Linked DNA regions of Homo sapiens: region 2 is linked to region 1. Evidence: fine-mapped expression QTL. A gene starts in region 1. The other region holds a variant in brackets. All regions are shown on one strand. Distances are between the middles of the regions.

Region 1 (8,975 bases):
GTGTGGTGGTGTGCACCTGAAATCCCAGCTACTCGGGAGGCTGAGACAGGAGAATCGCGTGAACCCAGGAGGCAGAGGTTGCAGTGAGCCGAGGTCACGCCATTGCACTCCAGCCCGGGGGACAGTGCTAGACCCTGTCTCAAAAAAAAAAAAAGTTACTTCTTTTTTCTTTCTGCTCTCTGATTTTCTTTTTCATTGCTAATGATTTTCAACGAGGGGGATATGTAATTTTAAAAGGTATATTTATATAGTCTAGTTTATCTTTAGTTGGTATAAATCATTTGCCTTTTAAAAAGCATATTTAGTATTATTTTATCCTTCAGAATCTTTTTAAAAATAGCTTTGAGACATAATTCACATACCATACAATTCATCCATTTAAAGTGTACAATTAGTTTTTAGTATATCCACAGAGCCATGAAACCATAACCACAACTAATTTTAGAAAATGTGTACCAAGAAGAAATCGCATATCCACTTGCACTCACTCTTCGTTTCCCCTGCCCTCCAGCCCTAGGAAGCTAAAAATCTGCTTTCTTTCTCTGTAGATTTGCATATTCTGAACATTCCATATACATGGAATCATATAATATGTGGTCTTTTGTGAGTGGTTTCTTTCACTTGCTATGTTTTTAAGGTTCAACTGTGATGTAGCACATTATCAGTAACTCTTTGGCTTTGTAATGCAAACTATTGAAAAGCAAACATGTGACATGAGACTCAAATACCAAGAAAGAAAGGTTTCAAAATATTTATTGAGGATCTCCTATTTGCCACCGTTAGCTAGTAAACGCATATGGATCATTCTCTAATTGTTATCTTCATTCCTACATGATCTATTAGGCACCAGAATTACATTTCCAGCTGCCATATTGACTTGGGTATCCAGGAGCTGACACCTTGAACTTAGTTCTCCCTCTTTCAAGGCCTTCTTTATTTTTGCTAGACAGAATTCCCCCAGGCTCAGAAGTTCAATCTTTAATTCCCTTTTCACTTTCATATCCAATCAGTCACCAAATCTTATAAACTCTATTTCTCAAATATTTTCTCTGTTTTGGTGTGTCAAAAATGTTATGGGTTGAATTGTATTTCTCCACAAAAAGATACACTGAAGTCTTAACCTAACATTACCTCAGAATATGACCTTATTTGGAAATATAATAATTGCAGATATAATTAGTTAAGATGAGGTCATACTGAAATAGGGTGTGTCCTTCATTCAATAAGGCTGGTGACCTAATAAAAAGAACACTATGTGAAGAGACAGAGACACAGGAAAATGCCATGTCACAATGGAGGCAGAGATCCAAATGATGCAACTATAAGCCAAGAAATGCCAAAGATTGCTGGCCATCACCAGAAGCTAGGAGAGAGGCATGGAATAATTCTCCTTCAGAGCCCCCAGAAAGAACCAAACCTGTGGACACCTTGATTTTTAGCCCCTAGAACTAGGGTAAGGTGACAAATTTTTGTTGCTTAAATTACCTAGTGTGTGGTACTTAATCACTACAGCCCTAGGTAACTAATACAGACACTAAATGACTTCATAATAGTTTAGGCATTCATTATATCATGCATCCCAAATCTTTATTTCATCATTTTATCTGCTACCCCAGACCAAGCCATCATCATTTCATGCCTAGGCAATGTTAATCACCTCCTAATTGTCTCCCTTGTCTCCCACAAGAATGGCACCCCTATTGCCATTCTTGTATCCTTATAATTCATTTGCCACATAGAATATTTTAATAATTAAACCATATCATATCAGTGTTCTGCTGAAAACTCTCCAATAGCATCCCTTAAATGGACATTAAAGGGCCTATATGAACGAACAGCTGCCTAGCTCTTGCACCACAATTCCTGCCACTCCTCATTACACACCGGGTATGCTAGATTTTTTTTTTTTTTTAAAAGACCAATTCAATTCCTCCATTGCACGAACTCTGCCATTCTGGAATGCTCTTCCTCTCATGGCTCATTTCTTCTTGTCATCACACTTCAGCTTAAATGTCAGTTCTGAACGGCCTTTCTTGACGACCGGAACTAACACAGATATTTGCTCAGTTTTAATTCTCGACAATGCACTTACCACTATCTGACATTGTTTTGTATTATTTTATGTATTTCACTGGTAATTGTGTCTCCTCTCCCTCCTACCCCCAATAGAGTATGACAACTGGGACTTGTCTTATCATTTATCCACAGTACGTGGGAAAATGGCCGGCACATGGGACTTCAATAAATATGTGCTCAATGGTGAACCACCTAGGTAGGCAGATATGTACGCTAGGATCGTGCTCGTGGGGAGCTTAGGTTCTAAAGGGAAAGGTCAATAAATAGGAGAAAAACAAACACCTAGATTCTGTTAACTGTTGCATAGAAGAGATTGAAGTTATACAGAAGACACTGAGGAGTCTATAATCAGAAGTTTCTCAGGTATGAGGTGACATTTTTGCTGAGGCTGGAATGAAGGCTTGGAAAAAATTAAGCAAGTAGAGCTCAGCTCCCTGAAAATTTCCAACAGAGAGAACAGCAAGCAAATAATCTTAGAGGCTATTATACAACAAATTCACTGAGTTCCAGGAAAGTCAGTGTGACTAGAGCATAGTAAAACTGGAAAATGATGAGAAAAGTGGCTGGAAAGGTAGTCAGGGTCCAGATTATACAAGCCTTGTTAGAGAATGATAAGCTGTTTCTATTTTACCCTAAGTGAAATACTATGCTATTTAAGTTGCTAAATGACATCGTCTGATTTACTCAGTGTAGAGTCTCACCAAACTGTGTCCCCAACCACCAGCATCAGAATCACTTCTGAGCTTGTTAAAAATGCAATCTGAAGCACCACATCGGAACTCAATTAAGATCCCTAGGTGATTCATATGCACATTAAAGTGTGAGAAACACTGGTACAGAGAATGGAGTAGAGGTGAGAAAGAGTAGAAGAGGGGAAGTCAGTTAGAGAGCTACATTCTGGTCCAAGTGAAGGAAAACAGTGGCCTGCATAAGAGTGACAGCAGGAAGGATGAGAAGACGGATTCTAGGTCACGTTTTGCAGACAGTTTGTTTAGGTCTCCTAGCCAGCTAAATGGAAATCTCAGTAGACAGGCAGTGATACAAGCCTGGGTTTCTGAAAAAAGTTTAGGCTTGGAGATGTAGATCTGTGGGTCTGTTATTAATAGTTGTCCTGCTTCGGGTTTTTATTTTTTTTTAATTTTCTTCCTTTTTTAGTGCTTTATATTTTACAAATGTCTGCAGCAGTTTTTTGTCATCTTTATGGAAAACAAGGCACGTCTTAAAGTCGTTCAAGTCCTTCACTTTTTCACACTGAGGTCTGTCTTCATATCCACTTATCTTTCAAGTCTATGAAACCCCTTATAAAAACTTTCCTTTGAAATATTTTAAAATTCAAGGCCCACGGCTGATTAATACTGTTTCTCCTCCATAACCCCTAGGATCCTCCAGTTCTGGGTTTTAACAAGAAAAATATCCTCAATCCTCTCTAGTTTCTAGGTGTAAAGCAGCTTGGACCCTCCTGGGTTTGGTGGGTCCATCTCTCTTGGAGTCCAACTCTGTATTCCTAAAAAGCAATTATTGAAATAGAAGCTAGTCAGTTAATGGCAATAAAAGAAGGGAATTCCAAGTGGGAGCTTCCCAAGCCAAGAGGAAGAGAGGTTTCTTGCCTTATCACTGTAAGTGGCAGAGTGGAGTTCCAATTCAATGATATCATTTGTGTTATCAAAGGTAGTTTAATCGTTGAAAAGCTTGTTAACAATTATAAACACAGGCAAATGCCTTTTCCTTTTTGGCCTTACGGAGAATGAGAAAAGTTCTTCCCATGGCTAAAATTCTTAGCTGTTGGTAATGCAGAAAAGAGTACCAGAACAGCAGAATTCCAACGGTATTCCAGGATTCTGTGTCTTGGTTAATTTTAAATTCACGTGACCTGGCAAACTTAGGAGAGTCCTGGTTGTAAGAGGTATTAACATTTTCAGCAGTAGTACTCTAGCTACACTTGACTGTTCCCCTCTCTGTGAATTTACATGATATGTTTGAAATACTGCCCCTCAAAAGTCTCAGAACTTTGAGAAATACGGTCCTTTCCAAAAAAACCCCTTATGTCCAATTTGAAGGGGTCGCTGTCAGTGGGTGCTTAAGTGGGTAAAGAAAAGCCAAGAATATGTCAGGGTGAGGAAGGCCAAGGCTGAGCGAGGTCAGCTTGGGACCCACCTCCTAGAATGACCTCCGCCAGCAGGAAAAAACCGTTAAGGGGAGGAAAGGGCAGGTCCCTGCGGCCTCCAGGTGCCAGCCGCGTGAGTGGGCGGAGAGGCCTCGGTGCCTCCTACCCGCTCCGGACGTGCGTCCCGGCATCACCCCGGGATCCGCTCCTCCCCGCTGGCGGGGGGAGAAAGGGCAGGAGGCCTTCCGTCCCGGCTATAAAGGGCCCCGGACCGCCGCGGCTCGCCTCGGCTTGCCTCGACACGCCTAGGCGCCCTCCGGCTCCGCCCTAGCCGCCGCGTCCCAGCTAGAGCTCCAGCGCCCGCTCAGGCCCCACTCGACCTCTCGGGCCTCGGCTACTTGGACTGCGGCGGAATATGGCGGCTCCGATGACTCCCGCGGCTCGGCCCGAGGACTACGAGGCGGCGCTCAATGCCGCCCTGGCTGACGTGCCCGAACTGGCCAGACTCCTGGAGATCGACCCGTACTTGAAGCCCTACGCCGTGGACTTCCAGCGCAGGTACCGCCGGAATCCCACCACCCCCACTTAGACAGGCAGCCCGCCTCCCAGGAGCCGTCTCGGGACACGGGCCGCCCCTCGGCCCTCGCGCGCCAACCCCGCCCCAGGCGGGGAGGAACCTGAGTGGGCGGGGCTCGGGGTGACTCGGGTAACCGGGTTCTGTGGCTTCCGTAGTGGCAGGTTTGACAGCGCTGGTGCCCGGAGCGGGCGCTGAAGAAACTTCTTTCCTCATCCCCTTTCCCCTCTGTTCTAATCAGCGGTCTTGCGCCATAGGGTACGTGCTGTGGCTCCAACACTTATTCCCCAGAGTGCTGCTGGGGAGTGACTCACCGCCGCTGCAGGTTTTCTGACTTTGGCACCCACTAGCGTGGGCCTGTGGAGTAACGTGGGCATAACTCCTGGCACGTGTAATTACGCATTTAAAACTTTCTAGTTTATTTCATAGCAAATGTTGTGATTTTATATCTAAGAGGATTCCTTCAGGCAGACACTATATCCTTTTGTTTTTTCCTTGCTAATATTCCTCATTTAGGGGAAGATTACACCTACATTGATCAATTTTTTCTCCCCTTGGATCAACATTGAGAAGTTAAATGTACATCAACATTTGTCCGTGTGTGACTTTAACCATCTTGAAGAGGGAGAAAGGTCAGGAAAGCAACTTTTACAGGCCAATGTCGTTTTAGCTTGTCTTCTACCATTGTGTACCATACAACTTTAGTTACTGGGCTAATAATTCTATTCATAAGTTCCACTAAAAAGGTACAGGTCTTTTTCTGTTGTCGTTGTTGTTTGAAGTAAAAGAGCTATTATACAAGTTGTAATAGTTATACTTGTGAGGTTACCCCATTTTGATTTAATAGTTTCTCCCCTTTTAGGAGAGACACTGCAGAATGGAAACTATCCTGGCAACAGAATATACATGGCCAATTTTTCGAGTGATGGAAAACATCCAACTAGTTAACTGGCATGAAGGAGCGTTGAGAGTAATGAAAATGGGTTGATTTGGAGTTTGAAAAAAGCCCAGCAAATTGTTTGTGTCCTAGCATTTTCAGGTATTAAATGCATTCAAATCAGCAAGTGTTTATTGAGGAACTCCTATAAATAAAACACTGCTCTAGGGATTGTAAGGGATGTGAAGTTTCATTCTTGAGCTTGTATATAGTAGTGAATGAGGCCTCTGTAAAATAATCACCTTGAGCTGTCCCTCACTTAATCAGATGATTATGCTCTTATATAAACCATATGAGGAGCAGCCTTGTGAAATTGTTTTCAGAATTTACAGTATATGCTTTCAGAGAAACTTAGTGCATAATCGTCATAGGTTTAAGGTTGGATTTGATTTAGAAATAGTCAGAAAAAATTTAGAACAAAAGATAGTGATTAAAGGTAGTGGTTAGATTTTTTTTTTGATGTCCTTGTAACCATGACATTAATTTACCTGTGTGCTTTGTAAAAGGACACTTAAGATATTTATTAAAGAAGAGTTGTGGAAATGTTTTATCTACACCCCCTTCCTTTTTTTTTTAAATGACACAAACAGATTAACATTCTTTATTAAGTGTTTCTTTCATGTACTTTATTTCCAACTCCACTGGGATTGAAGCATTTATAATCTTCTTTCATGGTTTGCCAAAACTAATGAAGGGAACAAAGGCCAAGATAAAGAAGGGAAGAGAATCCAGTGTGCTTGGTGAAAAGTCTCGTCCAGTGGGCCCTCATGCCTCACTCTGACCCGGATTTTACTTTTGTCCTTGGTTCTGAGTAATGGCCATTTGCTAGCATACATGTTCCATTTAGGCATATCAAATAGTAATTTGGCATTTGTTAGTGGTAACTTCTATTGTTAACACTTGAAGAATAAAACATTTTTCCTTCATACAATCTGGTCTTAGTTCCTTGTCCAATTTTCCATTTATTTCTGATAATCCATTTGGACTGTGTGTCTTTGGCCTAACACAAATACATAACCAGTCAAACACTTAGGTGCAAAGTATGCTTACTAAGGAGTGAAGAAAATTTGAGGTACAAACAACAGTATATAATTAAGGTGATGAAGAAGGAAATTTCTCTTTGATGGACTGTCTCATCCTTCCCCAACAGATATCTTTTGATTTGAAATTTTTTGGATGTTCCCTTAGGATGTTTTGGATGTTCCTTCCCTTCTTTACCTTGGCCTTTTCCCCTTCTGTATTAGTCCGTTTTCATGCTGCTGATAAAGACATACCTGAGACTGGGCAATTTACAAAAGGAAGAGGTTTATTGGACTTACAGTTCCAAGTGGCTGAGGATGCCTCGCAATCATGGCAGAAGGTGAAAGTCATGTCTCACATGGTGGCAGACAAGAGAAGAGAGCTTGTGCAGGGAAACTCCCCTTTTTAAAACCATCAGGTCTCGTGAGACTTACTTACTATCAGGAGAACAGCGTGGGAAAGACCTGCCCCCATGATTCAGTTACCTCCCATCAGGTCCCTCCCACAACACGTGGGAATTCAAGATGAGATCTGAGTGGGGACACAACCAAACCATATCACCTTCATTAGTTGTTCTTTTCACCTTCTGTACCTGTGAGAATTTTGAATCAAGTGTAGAGGATTAATGAGTTACTCTGCTATAAAATAAAAATTAGTACATTATTAGCATGACTGACCACCTCCATGTTGTCTCATTGATGACCTCCCAAAATAGCATTTTCCACTTGATTTTTCTACCTTTTATTTAGTTATTTACTTGTTGTTACACTACAATTAGTTGTTATAATTCCAAAATCTTAGTGCTTTAAAACAACATTTAATTGTTCCCATATTACATGTCAGCATGAGTCAGCCAGAGGGCCCTCCTCATGGCAGTCACTCAAAAATCTAGGCTTATGAAGGATTTGTTTTGAAACATGCTTCTGTAGAGGTGGTCACAGTGCAAAGAGAAGCATGTTGAACTATGCACTATTTCTTACAGCTTTTGCCTAGCAGTGAGTCCATTCTGCTGATACGTTACATTGGCCAGTGCCCATCAGCTTGCCATGTGGGTGAAACAGAGAATTGGCATTTGTGAACATTGTCAAAACAACACAATTTAATAATACTACTTTATACCCTCTGTTTAATGTTTATAAAGTACTTTCAGATCCGGTATTTAATGTAATCCTCATAACAAAACCATGAGGTAGACAGACGGTGGGCATTTTTCCTGTTTTGCAGATGAAGAAACTAAGTGATGGGCTTGAGCATATATGGCATAAGTAAGTGCTGCAACTGTGATTAATCTTTCTTTACTGAAACTGTTCTCAACCAGTTCACAGACAACTTCATGATAATTTAGGGATCCCTCTTTTCTTTATCTCTAGCATTGTACATGTTGGACTATTTCTTGGCTCTTTGAAGCCATAATCTTGCTTTTCTTTCATTTTCTCAGCCTCTTTTTGACCATTTAATGTAAGAGATTTTCAAGGTTCTTCCCTGGGATCATTTATGTATTTCTATTGTATATTTTCTCCCTAGACATTCTCATCCATCCCATGGATTCCATCTATCTACTGAGGCTGCCCACATCTGTCTCCACTCTAGATCTTTCTCCTTATCTTGGACTTATTTATATCTTCATTTTGATGTTTTATAAATACAAATCTCAACATGTATAAAACTGAACTTAACAGATTTTCATTCCAAACATGTTTGTCCCTGTCAACCCAATCGCAGTGTCTGGAATCTTCCTCTACCAGCTGCTCAAACCTAAAAGGTAACGAGTGATTTCTAATTACTCCCGTCTCCTCCTAGACCTTTGAGTCTAGTCAATTGTAGCCCCTAACTTTTAAGTATGTAGCATGCTGCCTTCCTACTGCTGCCATCCTAGTTCAGGTTGCTAGCATCTCTAGTATGGTTTACAGAAACAACCTCATAGCTGTTGTTCTTTTTTCAAATCTTCACTCCATTCTAACTTCTCCACTCCTCTTCATTCCAAACAGAGTAAGTAGAATGGATTTTGAAATAAACAAATCTGATCATGGTACTCCTCTGCTTAAACCCTTTCAACCATTCCTCATTTCTCTTGAGTTCTGTACAGCCTCCTTCCCATAACTTAGAAGATTCTGCATTATCTGGTCCCTGTTGACCTTTTCAGCCTCCCTCTCGGTACCATCTAACCAGAGGGCCATAAAGGGAGAGGGCAGCTTGGATCTCTGGGGACCATTCTGTAAAGGTACCAGAATACCAGTAAAATAAATTAGAAACATGATATCCAT
Region 2 (8,000 bases), 210 kb after region 1:
ATAAAAGAACTAGGAAATGAACCTGAGAAACTATAAACACACACACACACATTGACTTAAAATACATACTTTACAAATTGAGAAATAGGTTACCAACCTGTAAAGCTCATTACTATTTTATCATTTTTTCTCTTATTTGCCAAACTTCATTATATAGTTACGTGTGCTGATCCTGCTTCCTCATACGCTACCCACCTCTCAAACTCTTGTACTTTCCCTGATGCCGTCTCACAATTCAGGAACTTTGGTTTCCAAGATCATCATTGACTTGCAGACCTCTGCACCCACTACCTGAACTCCTTTGACCTCTTGGTTCAGTTTGACTCCTCAGGTTCTCCTTCTCTTTCTTCTTTGTTATGTTATGATTCTCCTGTCTGCTTCACAGACTCCTTCTCCTCAGTTTCTTCTATAATGTATTAATACATCTTTCTCAGGTGTTCTACTGGTTCTCTTTTATTGCTTCCCTACCTCTCTCAGAAAACTCATCTACTTTTATGCTTTGACCATTTCTTTAATGTAAATAACTCCTATATCATTATCTCAAAATCCAACCTTTTATTCTGAATTACAAACATAAATTTTGAAGCTGCCTGAGATCTCTACCTGGTTATCTTGCTGGCTCCTTTAAGTCACTAAATCCAAAACTGAAGTCATCCTCCCTATAAATCTTGATACCCTTTCTTCTTCTTTCTTTTTGTCCTTCTCCCTTCTCCTTTCTTTCTTCTTCTTTTCCTTCCTCCTTCCCTCTTCCTCTTCCTTCTTTCTTCTTTATCCTCATTATTCTGGTAATTAACCATTGAAATCTGGGAGTCATTTTAGTTGTTCCTTTTATTTGTTTATTTTTAACATCCAGCCATAGCTAAGTCACAGTATCCTTATTCTTCGTGACCTTTTCCCCATATACACTTCCACATAATTTTATATGTCTGTTGCATTTGTTTAGGCTTTTGCAGTTTATGCAGCATTTTTGCATGCATAATGTCACTTTTTACAAACAACGTGCAAGGTCGGTATCTTTTTTATAATTTTTATTTTGGGACAGCAAAAATTAATGGTTAAAAGTTCAGCTTTGGAGCCAGTCTGTCTACATTCTGATCCTGGCTGCTTTGCTTCCTGGCTGTATCATTTTTGACTTGTTACTCAATTTTTCTGTGCCTCAACTTCATCGTTTAAGAAAGGGGATTATAATGGTACCTATTTTACTGGGCATTTGTAAGAAAATATTTAATTATGTTAAGAGTTTATGTTGATGCTTTTTATTTAATAAATGTTCGATAAACAAAAAGTTACACAGCAGGAGGTTACACATTGTAAGTGACATATTACAAATTTTAAGTTGTCCTAAAATTTATGTCCTTTGTATCCATATTCCATGCTTCACCCACTGTATGACACATCATTGTGCCTTTTAAAAAATTCTATAGGAGAAATTCTTTATTTAACTGGAGACTGGACTAATTTATATTCAGAGAATTATTAGAAAGCGTAAAACTGCAATATAATTTGTAATTAAATACATCATTTCACAGGGTTTACCTTCTTGATGTTTATACCCTGTGCTCCCACCATTCCTAAAAAGTATTTCTTTAATGGGTCTCAGGAAGAACATTAAAGTAAGTATGTATATATTCCTGGATAGTAGTCTAGAATGTCTCCCGAGTTATGAATATTTAGATATTCATGAGTCTTGACATCTGTCACTTGGAGTATTAAAAGTTTCTCGTTACCCCCAAATACCTGACACATTTAATGATTCTTTGTAAAGTTTCAAGAAATAAAGTTTCCTTTTTATACATTCATGTGCCAGTTTATGAGGGACTCCAATAACTGTTGTGCCATAATTCTGGATTCTTATTTTAATCTTTTTAGGGTAATTAAATTCTCTTGGATTTTTTTTTTACTCTCTAGGTGAGGAATTTCATTTATCTATGAATAGCTTTGTTTATATTGTTTAAAGTTGAATATATTATGTTTATTTGACATTAAGTAAACATTAAATATGTAAGATATTTGATCTGTGATAATAGCATATTTTATTTTAAGTCTCCTTCTGCACTACCCAGGTTTCTTACTGGAAGCTTGGAAATTTACTTGGAAATTTACAAGTTTAGGTACAATTACGTTAAATAGACTTTACTGTATATCTACATGTACAGAACATCTCACTGTACAAAGTAAGGCACACAACTGAAAAGTCCTTCCTACATAGTCCAGATCAAAGCTCTAAACCAGAAGGAAGAAGAGGAGCAAAAAGAGACTATTTATATTGGACTTAGCTCCTTTGAAATAATTTTCACATAACAACCCTGTTTGTGTGTCGTTGAAGAAGACAAGGAGCCATAAAGGGACGTTAGGAAATGTCTATTCTCTAGAAAGCAGTTTATCCAGCTAAAAAAATTATGCTTTTCTGACTGAAGGAAAGATACTTCTCAGTCAGAGGAGGGGATATTTAACTTGGTTAATAAAGAATGGACAGAATTTCTGTAGGCAAAATCAGGCTTTGCAAGTCAAAGAACTAACTGGACAGAAGGCTTCGAAGCAGGAAACCTGGGTCCTGATCAGATTATTACATGTCATCTGGCTCTTTGAAGCAGGGTCTGCATATTGGGAGATGAAGTACAAAAGATAGCAAAGAAACTTTACTCAGCCAGGTGTGAATAGTAGAGATGAGCACCTCCAGATGGCATAATTTAAGTAATGAAACTGTTAGATATGACAAAAATTAAATGCAGCACCCATTAAGTTACTAACTATATTGCTTCACGTCTGTGTTCTTTCCTTTGCTATACTATTTCTGTCATTTAGAACTTTGTCTCCTGTAGATGTACAAAGAATGAGTTAGCCATATGGAAGAGTTTATGGTTTACCTATATGGAGGGTGGTAGTTTGTAGGTTGTGACAAAAGATTTGTGTTTAAGCGCCATTATCTTAAAGATACTAGATTGTTTGTTTATGTATGTTCAACCTATATATGTTTGAATTCTCCCTTTTATTGCCTTCAAAGCCATTTGATAGCCCAATTCATAACTTTATAGTCACATTTTTCAAAAATCAAAATCAGCATTACCCAGAGCAAAGCGAGAGAGCTGAAGCAAGCAAGTACAAACACTGAGAACCTTTTCTTCTTATTGTGGGAAGAAGTTCACAGTGTTTCCCACCAGCTGTCATGCTGCTATGGAACTTTTTTCTCCTTTCTTTGGCACCAGTGGCCTGAGAGGAAGCAAGAGCTGATAGCAGGGAAGCAGACAAGGCTAACTAGCTGTTGGCAGGAACCTGGAGCAATAGAAGCATCATCCAAAGGCAAACCAATACAGGCTCTTTGATTAAGTTATAAGCAGGTAGTTACGTCTCTCTACTTGGGGAGTTAGAGCTCTGATACAGAAGAAAGGCTGTGGGAGATGGAAACCTAGAAAAGTAGCAGCCGGCTGTGCCTTGAACAAGCCTTGGATTCTTACAAAAACACTCCACCAGCCTGGAATGATACCAGTATTCAATTAAACTGATGTCAGTTATCAAATTCTGAGTATTTAAGGAAACATGTTCTTACTAATCTTTTTTATTTTTTTCCCCTGTGGCTATGTGCTTTCTTTTTAAATGTCTGTGCTTAGCTCTTAAAGAGTAATTGACTAGGGAAGTTTGTTAACCTCTGTCACTATGTGTGTTTGCTGTGACCACAGGAACTCACTCTGACTTAGCGGTAGCATATCCTAATCATAGGCAAACAAAGTAGCACAGTCTGTCTTCACTACTAAACTTTTGAGTCTAAACCTAAAGTTGCAATAGCCACAAAGCCACATGTGTAGAATCAATTTCATAGTTGGCTAATTTATTCCTTGCTTTCATATCCCATTTTTCTGCCTTATTTTCTACTGCTTAAAATGGTGTGGAATCTTTCAGTTGGTGCCTTATTCACATGCAAAACATTTATACATTTTTACAAGGTTCTCCATTAGCAAATTATTTTCTGAGTTATTTTTAACTTACTTGCAAAAAATCTGAATTCAGTTTGAATTTTATAAAATAACATTTTTT[TC/C]CCCCCACCATTTCCTTTGTGTGGCTAATTTTCTCCCAATAGAGTATTTTGAGTCTCCTGTTCCATGCAACATCAAAATGGCCTCAAAATGACTGGTGAAAGCCCATTACTGTTGCTATGAAAATTTGTATTAAGAAAATAATATCTGGTTCTTACAACATTGTGTGCAAAAGTATAACACTCATTCTCGATTTAGTCTCATTTGCTTTGTTCATTGTCTTATCCTCGTCTTATATTTTTATTATTTATTTTAAATTTAAAAATGTGCCAAAAAATGGCATATAGGTCAAAGTTTGAATAGCAACATGAACATTTGAAATTGCATCTCCTATTAGTCTGGCATTCAGAAAAGGAAACCTAACCTCTGATAAATAGACAACTGAAGTGCTTTATCTGTTCTCTTCTGATTTAAATATTTCTCTCCCTGATGGTATAGATATGTTCCTCTTTATCCACCCCCTTTCTACCCCATTGTACTTTCTGTCTGTTTTTTTTTTTTTCTTATGGCTCTCATAGAAACCCATTTTGCATCTGTAAAGAAACATTTTTAGACACTTTTTTATCTGTCTCTATACTTCAACTGGGTATTCAAAAAAAAAAAAAAAGACATTTTCCATGAGGAATACATAGTCTACTAATGGAAGCAGACATCATTGACTTTATTTTTTTTCTTTCAACATTTATTTAATAAATCTTTGAGTGTATACTGAATGCTTGCTGTAGTAGAAATAATAGATGAAAATACAGGATATCTGTCCCCAGTCTAATAGAAAGAGGCAAAAACAATATAACCACACACATACAAAACACAGCATAATGCTATTTAAATACTTTCATTAGTAAAGAAAAAAATATATATCCAAGTGCAAGTGGAAGCACAGGAGAACACTCAAGCCTTTTTGCAGGAGTTTAAAAAAAAAACTCTGAAGAGGCTAAACAGCTACAACGTGGAATCATAACACCAATAGTAGCAGCATATGCAAGGTACAAAGAAAGCAGAGGTCAGTAATAAATACACTTCATTCGTACATTTGATAGTGGAATTGGAAGTACATTCTTTTTATAGCTCTTTCATTACCTTCCCTAATGCCTGTACATTCATAATAGATTTCTAGTTAATGTTGTTCAAATCATGTACTTAGTGCCAGATACAATGAAAAGTACGCAGAGACATCTAAGTTCGAATACTAGTCTTGATACTTCATACCTGTATAACCTTAGAAAGTCACATTACTTTCCTGATCTATTATCTGAAAACAGAAATAATGTTCCCTCCCATATTGAAGGGTTTTTGTGAAGATTATTTTTTAAAGTAACTGTTAATAATTGTAGCACAAAGCCTGTGTATATAGGAGGCTCTCAATAAATGACTTTGCTTTTATTTTAATATTGTGATTATTTTACATTTCATTTATTTAAAATCATCTTCCATTTTCTCAATTTTAAAAAAAGGAATTAAGAGATGTATAATTACCCTTCAATACAGTAATGCTAATAAGTCTTTAGCATTTCAAATAAAACTTGTTTATAAGTGTGTTTATATTCATTCTACCACATTTATGTGGAATATAGAAATCTGATTTTGCACTTATGGACATTGCTGATGAAGATTATTTTTTGTTTGTTTATTTTGACAGCCTTCTTTTTTTTTTTTTTTTTTTTTTTTTTATATAAGATAGAGCCTTGCTCTGTCTCCCAGGCTGGAGTGCAGTGGCACAATCTCAGCTCACTGCAACCTCCACCTTCCGGGTTCAAGCAATTTTCCTGCCTCAGCCTCCTGAGTAGCTGGAATTACAGGTGCCTGCCACGCGCTCAGCTAATTTTTGTATTTTTAGTAGAGACAGGATTTCGCCATGCTGGCCAGGCTGGTCTTGAGTTCCTGACCTCAGGTAATCTACCCGCCTTGGCCTCCCAAAGTGCAGGGATTACAGGCGTGAGCCACCACGCCCAGCCTATTTTGACAACCTTCTTAACATTGGACCTAAGAATTTACTTCACCCACTATCCTGTCTTTGCCTTATTGATGAGAACTTAACCACCCCAAGCAATTGTAATCATGTAGATAACACAAAGGATTGATGGGTTTGGCCAGATCAACCAAAGTTCAAGTTGAAAATTGTTTTCCAAGTGCCCATAGCTCATTCAGCTATTACTTCAAGATGTTACACATAATTTATCAGGGGGAGGACTGGGAGAGCAGGGGTAGAGTGAGGGTATGGACCCAGCATGCTTCCCTAGTTCTAACATTCAGCACCACATTCCTGGCCCCTTTCAGCTCTTCTAGAATTGGGGGTATGGATATTTGTCACCATGGCATGATTAGATGGAACAGGAGCATTTGTCTCATATCACTGTGAACCCTGAATATCTAAGACAGGTCTCAGTTCATTTAGAAAGTTTATTTTGCCAAGGTTGAAGATGTGTGCCCGGACACAGCCTCAGGAGGTCCTGATGACATGTGTCCAGCTTGGTCAGAGCAGTTTTGTTTTATACATTTTAGGGAGACATGAGACATCAGTCATAGTAAGATGAACATTGGTTCAGTCCAAAGCAGCAGGACAACTTGAAGGACAGGTGGGACAACTGGAAGTGGGGAGGGGGCTTCCAGGTCATAGGTAGATGAGAGGAAAATGGTTGCATTGAGTTTCTGCTTAGCCTCTCCAAGGGAGGCAATCAGATATGCATTGACCTCAGTGAGCAGAGGGGTGACTTTGAATAGAAGCGGTTCCCAGCTTGTCTTTTCCCTTTAGCTTAGTGATTCTGGGGCCCCAGGATTTGTTTTCCTTTCATACTCTCCTACTACTTTCTTTAACTTTTACAGATCCTTTAAGCCTTCTTTTGATCCCTCTTGTCCAGCACCCCCCATCATGTTAAGGAAATGGATATTTTTATGGTTGTGTAAAATCTCTCCTATTAAATTGTGAGTTCTATGAGAACAGGGATGATGCTGATGTATATTAAGCAATTAAGCATGTTATCTGATGCACAGATACACTTAAGTAGTTCTAAAGTTGTATTCTTCTGTTATAGTTAAACATATGACCACTTTAACATGGGGCTTAGAATATATTCTTTGGCTTGTATCTTTTAAGGGAGGAGTGTGCAGGAGAAAGACATGAGAGAACGTGGAGACCAAAGCATTTTGTTTTAAAACAGTGAATCTGTTACCAGAAAAGGGTCCCTATACAGACCCCAAGAGAGGGTTCTTGGATCTAGGCAAGAAAGAATTCAGAGAAAGTCCATAGAGTAAAGTGAAAGCAAGTTTATTAAGAAAGTAGAGGAATGAACGAATGGCTACTCCATAGACAGAGCAGCCCCAAGGGCTGCTGGTTGTTCATTTTTATGGTTATTTCTTGATTATTTGCTAAACAAGGGGTGGATTATTCATACCTCCTCTTTTAAGACCACATAGAGTAACTTCCTGACGTTGCCATGGCATTTGTAGACTGTCATGGTGATGGTGGGCGTATAGCAATGAGGATGACCAGAGGTCACTCTCATTGCCATGTTGGTTTTGGTGGGTTTTAGCTGGCTTCTTTCCTGCATCCTGTTTTATCAGCAAGGTCTTCATGACCTGTGTCTTGTGCCAACCTCTGTCTCATTCTGTGACTTAGAATGCCTAGTCATCTGGGAATGCAGCCCAGTAGGTCTCAGTCTTATTTTACCTAGTCCCTATTCAAAATGGAGTTGCTCTGATTCAAACACCTCTGACATATATTCTCCCTCCATTTTATAAGAGAACTCTTAAAGGTTATAGAGGGATGAAGATCCATCTTCTGTAACTTCTTCAGGCTGAATAAGGGCAATGATATTCCTACCTAACTGTTAGGTCTCTTGCATTCAGGGTAGAGAGGAGCTCAGTCAGAAAGCATTGGTATGGTGATAGCCATTCGTAACTATTGAGTGCTGAAAAAAAGGTGATATCTGGAAGATTAATAACTGTCCAGTTTCAGAGAACATTGAGTAA

The links. PIP is the estimated chance that this variant, and not a neighbour inherited with it, causes the effect.
Region 2: its variant is fine-mapped to the expression of GBE1 in whole blood (INTERVAL, PIP above 0.99).

Annotation. Positions count from the first base shown.
Region 1 is chr3:81,757,138-81,766,112 of GRCh38, reverse strand. GBE1 (1,4-alpha-glucan branching enzyme 1) reads left to right here and starts at 4,468. Exons shown (of 16, transcript NM_000158.4): 1 at 4,468-4,738. The coding sequence starts at 4,596. RefSeq lists silencers at 4,240-4,339, 4,840-4,919, 7,501-7,795 and enhancers at 3,995-4,603, 4,390-4,679, 5,020-5,189.
Region 2 is chr3:81,550,222-81,558,221 of GRCh38, reverse strand. All of the region lies in intron 12 of GBE1 (1,4-alpha-glucan branching enzyme 1), which reads left to right. Among named protein-coding and RNA genes, the nearest start is that of GBE1, 210 kb to the left of the region's middle. The variant TC/C (reference allele first, on the strand shown) is at 4,033.